Homo sapiens: one gene and its partner. The protein of the gene in region 1 purifies or fractionates together with the protein of each later gene. This does not show direct contact. Each region holds a gene or a part of one and is shown in the gene's direction. Other genes may lie near its edges. The genes, in order: ZBTB17 and ZBTB4.

Evidence for each region.
Region 2: the proteins of ZBTB17 (region 1) and ZBTB4 purify together in Homo sapiens (affinity purification with western blotting; one study listed by BioGRID). This does not show direct contact.

Annotation. Positions count from the first base shown.
Region 1 is NC_000001.11:15,941,369-15,945,407, reverse strand, and holds the end of ZBTB17 (zinc finger and BTB domain-containing protein 17), read left to right. Parts: intron 1-205; coding exon 206-471; intron 472-568; coding exon 569-711; intron 712-807; coding exon 808-1,108; intron 1,109-1,512; coding exon 1,513-1,600; intron 1,601-1,692; coding exon 1,693-1,809; intron 1,810-1,888; coding exon 1,889-2,009; intron 2,010-2,213; coding exon 2,214-2,344; intron 2,345-2,669; coding exon 2,670-2,879; intron 2,880-2,966; coding exon of another isoform or gene 2,967-2,987; coding exon 2,988-3,077; intron 3,078-3,155; coding exon 3,156-3,439; 3' UTR 3,440-3,539; downstream 3,540-4,039. UniProt on the Homo sapiens protein: Transcription factor that can function as an activator or repressor depending on its binding partners, and by targeting negative regulators of cell cycle progression.
Region 2 is NC_000017.11:7,473,099-7,476,904, reverse strand, and holds part of ZBTB4 (zinc finger and BTB domain-containing protein 4), read left to right. Parts: intron 1-3,806. UniProt on the Homo sapiens protein: Transcriptional repressor with bimodal DNA-binding specificity. Represses transcription in a methyl-CpG-dependent manner.

The DNA of each region.
Region 1 (4,039 bases):
TGCTGGCCGACAGCGCCCACCCCAGCTGGCTAAGCCCCCTACCTGCATCCCGCAAGCAGCAAATACCCAGTTCACAGGCCCCCCCGGGGGCTTTCCTTGGCCAGTGCTGGGGCCATTTACTGTCCCTTCCACATGTTGCCGGCGCCCCTCACGTGCGCTCAGGCAGAGAGGGCTGCCGCCTCCATGCTTGCCCTTTTCTCCGCAGAAATGGAGGTGGAGCCCGCCCGGAAAGGGGAAGAGGAGCAAAAGGAGCAAGAGGAGCAAGAGGAGGAGGGCGCAGGGCCAGCTGAGGTCAAGGAGGAGGGTTCCCAGCTGGAGAACGGAGAGGCCCCCGAGGAGAACGAGAATGAGGAGTCAGCGGGCACAGACTCGGGGCAGGAGCTCGGCTCCGAGGCCCGGGGCCTGCGCTCAGGCACCTACGGCGACCGCACGGAGTCCAAGGCCTACGGCTCCGTCATCCACAAGTGCGAGGTGAGGGAGACTATGGCCAGCCCTCCCAGCCAGCGTCCCTCCCCTCCGGCCTCCCACCGGCTGCTCCTCACACCCCGCTTCCCCGCTGCACCCACAGGACTGTGGGAAGGAGTTCACGCACACGGGGAACTTCAAGCGGCACATCCGCATCCACACGGGGGAGAAGCCCTTCTCGTGCCGGGAGTGCAGCAAGGCCTTTTCCGACCCGGCCGCGTGCAAGGCCCATGAGAAGACGCACAGGTACTGCCCCAAGCCGGCCTCCTACCCCGGCCCCTGCCAGGCCCGGCCTTTCACGCCCCAGCGAGCCCTGCCTCCTGTCGCCTTCTGGCCCTGCAGCCCTCTGAAGCCCTACGGCTGCGAGGAGTGCGGGAAGAGCTACCGCCTCATCAGCCTGCTGAACCTGCACAAGAAGCGGCACTCGGGCGAGGCGCGCTACCGCTGCGAGGACTGCGGCAAGCTCTTCACCACCTCGGGCAACCTCAAGCGCCACCAGCTGGTGCACAGCGGCGAGAAGCCCTACCAGTGCGACTACTGCGGCCGCTCCTTCTCCGACCCCACTTCCAAGATGCGCCACCTGGAGACCCACGACACGGACAAGGAGCACAAGTGCCCACACTGCGACAAGAAGTTCAACCAGGTGTGCGGACCCCTCCCGGAACCAGCGCCTGGCAGCCGCCGGTGGCCGCAGCCGCATGCATGCCACGTGGTGGGGCGGGCGGGGAGCACAGCCCCGGCCTCCAGGAGCTCATCAGCTTGTTCACCCAGGAAACAGGCGCAGCGAGAGCCACTTCCGCGGGGGAGCTCCCGGTTGCTCTGCGGAGGGCAGGCCGACTCAGGGCGGGGTTTGGTCCTGAAAAAATGGGGTGGGGCGGCTTACCTCTCACCGCTGGGACCTGGGACCTCTCCTGACCCAGGAGAGATAGAGCCCTTCACGGACCCTGGCAAGCCTGAGAGTCAATTGTTCCTTTGTGGGAGGGGCAGGTGAGGGGGCCCGGGGCCGAGCTCTGTGGGGTGGCCCCCCTGACCCCTCCCTGGGCACAGGTAGGGAACCTGAAGGCCCACCTGAAGATCCACATCGCTGACGGGCCCCTCAAGTGCCGAGAGTGTGGGAAGCAGTTCACCACCTCAGGTAGGGCCAGGGCTGCCCTGGCTGCCCTCACACCCCTGCTCCTCGGCCACCGGTGGTGCCCCACGCCAGGTTCGCCCTCGGTCTCGCCACAGGGAACCTGAAGCGGCACCTTCGGATCCACAGCGGGGAGAAGCCCTACGTGTGCATCCACTGCCAGCGACAGTTTGCAGACCCCGGCGCTCTGCAGCGGCACGTCCGCATTCACACAGGTGGGTGGTGAGCGGCCATGCCCAGGACTGGGAGGGCACGGAGAGGAGCAGGCACCAACACCTTCTGCCCGGTCCCCAGGTGAGAAGCCATGCCAGTGTGTGATGTGCGGTAAGGCCTTCACCCAGGCCAGCTCCCTCATCGCCCACGTGCGCCAGCACACCGGGGAGAAGCCCTACGTCTGCGAGCGCTGCGGCAAGAGGTCCTGCCCCCTCCCCCACACCCACTGGCCAGACACCCCACAGTGAGGGGGCTCAGAAGACAAACTGGGGGCTTGGCTGGGGACTGAGCTGACTGCTGCCCACGCCCCAGGCTCTGGTCCTAGGGGTCCTTTTCAGTCTAGAGGGTGAGGCAGGAGGCCCAGGTTGGGGCAGTTCCATGCGAGTCCCTTCCTGTGGCCCCACAGATTCGTCCAGTCCAGCCAGTTGGCCAATCATATTCGCCACCACGACAACATCCGCCCACACAAGTGCAGCGTGTGCAGCAAGGCCTTCGTGAACGTGGGGGACCTGTCCAAGCACATCATCATTCACACTGGTGAGCTGTGGCCCCTACCATGCCTGTTCCTTCCCAGGCCCTGCTGCCAGGTGGGGAGCAGGGGGAAGGAAGGGACCCCCCAGACCCCAGCCTCGGGTGCTAGCTCTTGCTGCAGGTGGCCTTGAAGGCAGTTCTGTTCAAATGAGGACCCCATTTTCCTAGAGCTTCCAGAGGTGCCAGTGTCACCAGAGGCACCCGTGCAGCCACCCCAGAGCACCTCCTGCTGTAAAAGACAGGGTTGCTGGGCAAACGAGTCATTGAGGGCCTCCCACCCCATCCCTGCGGCCCCTTCCCACAAAGGCAAGAGAGAACCTTGCTCCCCCAGGAGAGAAGCCTTACCTGTGTGATAAGTGTGGGCGTGGCTTCAACCGGGTAGACAACCTGCGCTCCCACGTGAAGACCGTGCACCAGGGCAAGGCAGGCATCAAGATCCTGGAGCCCGAGGAGGGCAGTGAGGTCAGCGTGGTCACTGTGGATGACATGGTCACGCTGGCTACCGAGGCACTGGCAGCGACAGCCGTCACTCAGCTCACAGGTGCGGGCTGTGGGCAGCAGAGGGAAGTCACAGGCAGCTTGCTGCCAGGGTGGCGATGATGGGGCAGTGCCCGTGCCTTCACCTTAGGCCCTGCGACTCTGCCCGCAGTGGTGCCGGTGGGAGCTGCAGTGACAGCCGATGAGACGGAAGTCCTGAAGGCCGAGATCAGCAAAGCTGTGAAGCAAGTGCAGGAAGAAGGTGAGGGGGGCCACCCGGGTGTGAATGTGGGCAGAGCCCGGGGTCCTTCCCACTCTGACTGCTGCCCCACCTCCACAGACCCCAACACTCACATCCTCTACGCCTGTGACTCCTGTGGGGACAAGTTTCTGGATGCCAACAGCCTGGCTCAGCATGTGCGAATCCACACAGCCCAGGCACTGGTCATGTTCCAGACAGACGCGGACTTCTATCAGCAGTATGGGCCAGGTGGCACGTGGCCTGCCGGGCAGGTGCTGCAGGCTGGGGAGCTGGTCTTCCGCCCTCGCGACGGGGCTGAGGGCCAGCCCGCACTGGCAGAGACCTCCCCTACAGCTCCTGAATGTCCCCCGCCTGCCGAGTGAGCTGGCGGCCCTTCTGACTGTTTATTTAAGGATGGATGGCACCCTGGAACCGGGAAGGGTGGCCTGTTCCCTAGAGAGAATAAATTGGATTATTTTCTAATGCTGCCTATAGGTCCCTGTGGGGTGGGTGGGGAGCTGGCAGCTACAACTGATGCCACAGAAAGGCTGTACCACCCAGGAACCAGCCTTCCTGGGAAGGTCAGCCCGTCCCTCTTGCTGAATGCGACTAGAATCAGAGCCAGGCTGGCTGCTTTGCCCCAAGTTGAGGAGTGGGCAGTACACTCAGGCTGGAGAGACCTCGGCACCACGTGCCCCATGCCCTCATCCCATCTTGTTTGGAGGCTTCTCACCTGTTCATCTTTAGGGCCTGGCCTCCCCTCGCCCCACAGCTATGACCCTGCTCCCCCTCGGCCCAGGTTGGGGAGAGGTTGGGAAGTTGGGGAAGGGACCAGCAGGGGCGGCCACCAACTGCTTACCAGGGTACAGGCAACCCAGAGCGAGCCTGGCTCACAGGCCACTGCTGCCAGGCCTGGCTCAGGGGTCCTTCCAGCCAGAGTGGCAAGGTAGGCCAAGGAGAGTGCCAGGCCCAGGCCACTGCCC
Region 2 (3,806 bases), on another chromosome or scaffold:
CTGCCTTCTGGAACATTCAGTGGATGGTCCTTTCTGTGCAACTCCCTCCAACACTCTTCTCCCCAGTTGCTGCAGAACTTAGCATTTGCAGCAGTCCATTTCAGAAGACCCGGATGCTCAGGGATCCCCAGCTGAGGGCATGAGAACCTGAGTCTCTGCTGCTGTGTAAGGTGGATGCTGGCCATAGGAGCACAAAAGGTTGATGAGTCAGAGGAAGGAATGATCGTTCTCATCCTGTGGATCAGGGAGGGCCAAGAAGGAGGTGGCCTTGGAGTCAGATCTTAACGTTTTGGAGGGATTTTGACAAGCTTGGGGAAAGAGCATTTCTGGCAGAACAAGCCAGCACAGGCAAAGGCATGAAGGTGTGGGTCATGTAGAAGCTGGAGAGCACACTGGGTGTCTGGGGTTTTGTTCATTTGTTTAGAAACTGGGTCTCAATATATTGCCCAGGCTGGACTCAAACTCCTGGGCTCAAGCAATCCTCTAGCTGCAGCCTCCTGAGTAGCTGGGACTATGGGTATCTGCCATCACGCCTGGCTCACGCTGAGTACTGTGTGTTTGAAGAGGATAACACAAGGCAAGATTAAAAAGGAAGATTGGAGCTAGACCAGAGCCCTTGACTGCCTGGTAGAAGAATTTGAACTTTCTTCTAGAGTCAGTGGGGACCAGTGGAGGTTTTGAGCCCAGGAGTGATAGTCCTGAACTGTGGTTAGGGACGTTGACCCTCAGGGGGAGGAGGGCTGGATGGAGGAAGGTAAGCCTGGAGGCCAGGGGATAGCTGGGAGGCCATAACCTTGGACCACGTGAGTGTTAACAAGGACCTGAGCTATCGAAGGGAAGATTTCCAGAGCCATTCCCAAGCTCGGCGGCGATTTCAGCCACACTTGATGACTGCTGGATGTGGAAGTGAGGGAAAGGGTGGAGTCAGACATGACACATTTAGCACTTAGCACGTGAGACCTTGTGCGGTGGTTTATGTAACCAGCTGGCGGGCCATAGGCCTCTTCAGGGCCAGGTCTAGCAGTATGGCAGAGGGAAAGATTGAGCATCTGGGGTCAGCTGGGCCTGGATTCGAATCTTGACTGCTGCTTACAAGCTGTGCGACCTCGAGTAAGGTATATCCCTCTCTGAGCCTCGGTTTCCTCTTCTGTAAAATTAGAATAATATGGCCGGGCGCAGTGGCCCATGCCTGTAATCCCAGAACTTTGGGAAGCCAAGGCAGGTGGATCACCTGAGGTCAGGAGTTCAAGACCAGCCTGGCCAACATGGAGAAACCCTGTCTCTACTAAAAATAAAAAAACTAGCTGGGCGTGGAATCCCAGCTACTCTGGAGGCTGAGGCAGGAGAATTGCTTGAACCCAGGAGACGGAGGTTGCAGTGAGCCGAGATCACGCCACTGCGCTCCAGCCTGGGCAACAGGATAATATAAAACCTATTGTGGGTGGCTGTACTGAGAATATCATTAAATGAGGTAATGTGTGTGAGGCCCCAAGAAGAGTATGAGGCAAATTGTGAGGACTCCAGAGTGGTCAACTTATTTATGGTTTCTTTTAATTTTTTTTTGAGACGGAATTTCTCTCTTGTTACCCAGGCTGGAATGCAATGGCATGATCTTGGCTCACTGCAACCTCCGCCTTCCGGGTTCAGGTGATTCTCCTGCCTCAGCCTCCCGGGTAGCTGGGGTTACAGGCGCCCGCCACTACGCCCAGCTAATTTTTTATTTTCAGTAGAGACCAAGTTTCACCATGTTGGCCAGGCTGGTCTCACCATGTTGGCTAGGCAGGTGGTCAATCCCTGACCTCAGGTGATCCACCTGCCTTGGCCTCCCAAAGTGCTGGGATTACAGGCGTGAGTTGGCCATACCTGGCCTTTTTTTTTTTTTTTTTTTTTTTTGAGGCAGAGTCTCACTCTGTCGCCCAGGCTGGAATGCAGTGGCGCAATCTCTGCTCGCTGCAACCGCCACCTCCCCGGTTCAAGCAATTCTCCTGCCTCAGCCACCTGAGTAGCTGGGGTTACAAGCGTGCACCACCACACCCAGCTAATTTTTGTATTTTTAGTACAGATGGGGTTTCATCATGTTGGCCAGGCTGGTCTGGAACTCCTGACCTCAAGTGATCTGCCCGCCTCAGCCTCCCAAAGTGCTGGGATTACAGGTGTGCGCCACTGTGCCTGGCCCAGAAGTGGTCAAGTTATAATTGTCATCCCTATCTCCAGGCCAACTCAGTCCAGCGTGGACGATGGCTTCCATCCTGGAGGATGGACTTTGAGGACAGGTTCATTCATTTACCAGTTTTTTTGTTTTGTTTTTACCACCTATTACGTGCTAGGCCCTATTCTAACGACTTCAGATACGGCAATGAACAAAGCAGACAAAATTCCCTACCCTTGGCCGGGCGCTGTGGCTCACACCTGTAATTCCAACACTTTGGGTGTCCAAGGCGGTGAATTGCTTGATCCCAGGAGTTCGAGACCAACCTGGGCAACATGGTGAAGCCCTATCTCTACTAAAAATACAAAAAATTCGCTGGGCGTGGTGGCATATGCCCGTAGTCCCAGCTACTTGGGAGGCTGTAATGAGAGAATCACCTGAGCCTAGGGGAGGTCAAGGCTGCAGGGAGCTGTGGTAACACCACTGCACTACAGCCTGGGTGACAAAGCAAGACCTCATGTCAAAAAAAAAAAAAGTCTGGCCATGGTGGCTCATGCCTGTAATTCCAGCGCTTTGGGAGGGAGGCCAAGGCGGGTGGATCACCTGAGGTCAGGAGTTCGAGACCAGCCTGGTCAACATGGTGAAACCCTGTCTCTACTAAAAATATAAAAATTAGCCGGGTGTGGTGGCATATGCCTGTAGTTCCAGGTTTTTGGGAGGCTGAGGCAGGAAAATTGCTTGAACCCAGGAGGCAGAGGTTGCAGTGAGCCGAGAGAGATCATGCCACTGCACTCCAGCCTGGGCAACAGAGCAAGATGCCATCCATCTCAAAAACAAAACAAAACCAAAAACATTCCTACCTTTTACCCCTTGGAGCTTACATTCCAGAGATAAATAAGAAATAGGAGCTGGGCGCAGTGGCTTTCCACTATGATCCCAGCACTTTGGGATGCTGAGCTGGGCGGATTGCTTGAGACCAGGATTTCAATACCAGCCCTGGGGAACATGGTGAAACCTCATCTCTACAAAAAATACAAAAATTATCTGGGCATGGTGGCAGGTACCTGTAGTCCCAGCTACTCAGAAGGCTGACAGGTGAGAGGATCATTTGAGCCCAGGAGGTTAAGGCTGCAGTGAGCCTCAATCTCACCATTGTACTGCAGCCTGGGCAACAGAGCAAGATCCTGTCTCAAAAAAAGATAAATAATTGACCAGGCTCTGTAATCCCAGCACTTTGGGAGGCTGAGGCGGGCAGATCACCTGAGGTCAGGAGTTTAAGACCAGCCAGGCCGACATGGTGAAACCCCATCTCTACTAAAAATACAAAAATTATCCGGGCCTGGCCAGGCGCGGTGGCTCATGCCTGTAATCCCTGCACTTTGGGATGCCGAAGTGGGCAGATCACAAGGTCAGGAGATGGAGACCATCCTGGCTAACATGGTGAAACCCCGTCTCTACTAAAAATACAAAAAAAAATTAGCCGGGAGTGGTGGTGGGTGCCTGTAGTCCCAGCTACTCCGGAGGCTGAGGCAGGAGAATGGCGTGAACCCGGGAGGCGGAGCTTGCAGTGAGCCAAGATCGCACCACTGCACTCCAGCCTGGGCGACAGAGCGAGACTCAGTCTCAAAAAAAAAAAAAAAAAAAATGGTGGCGCGCG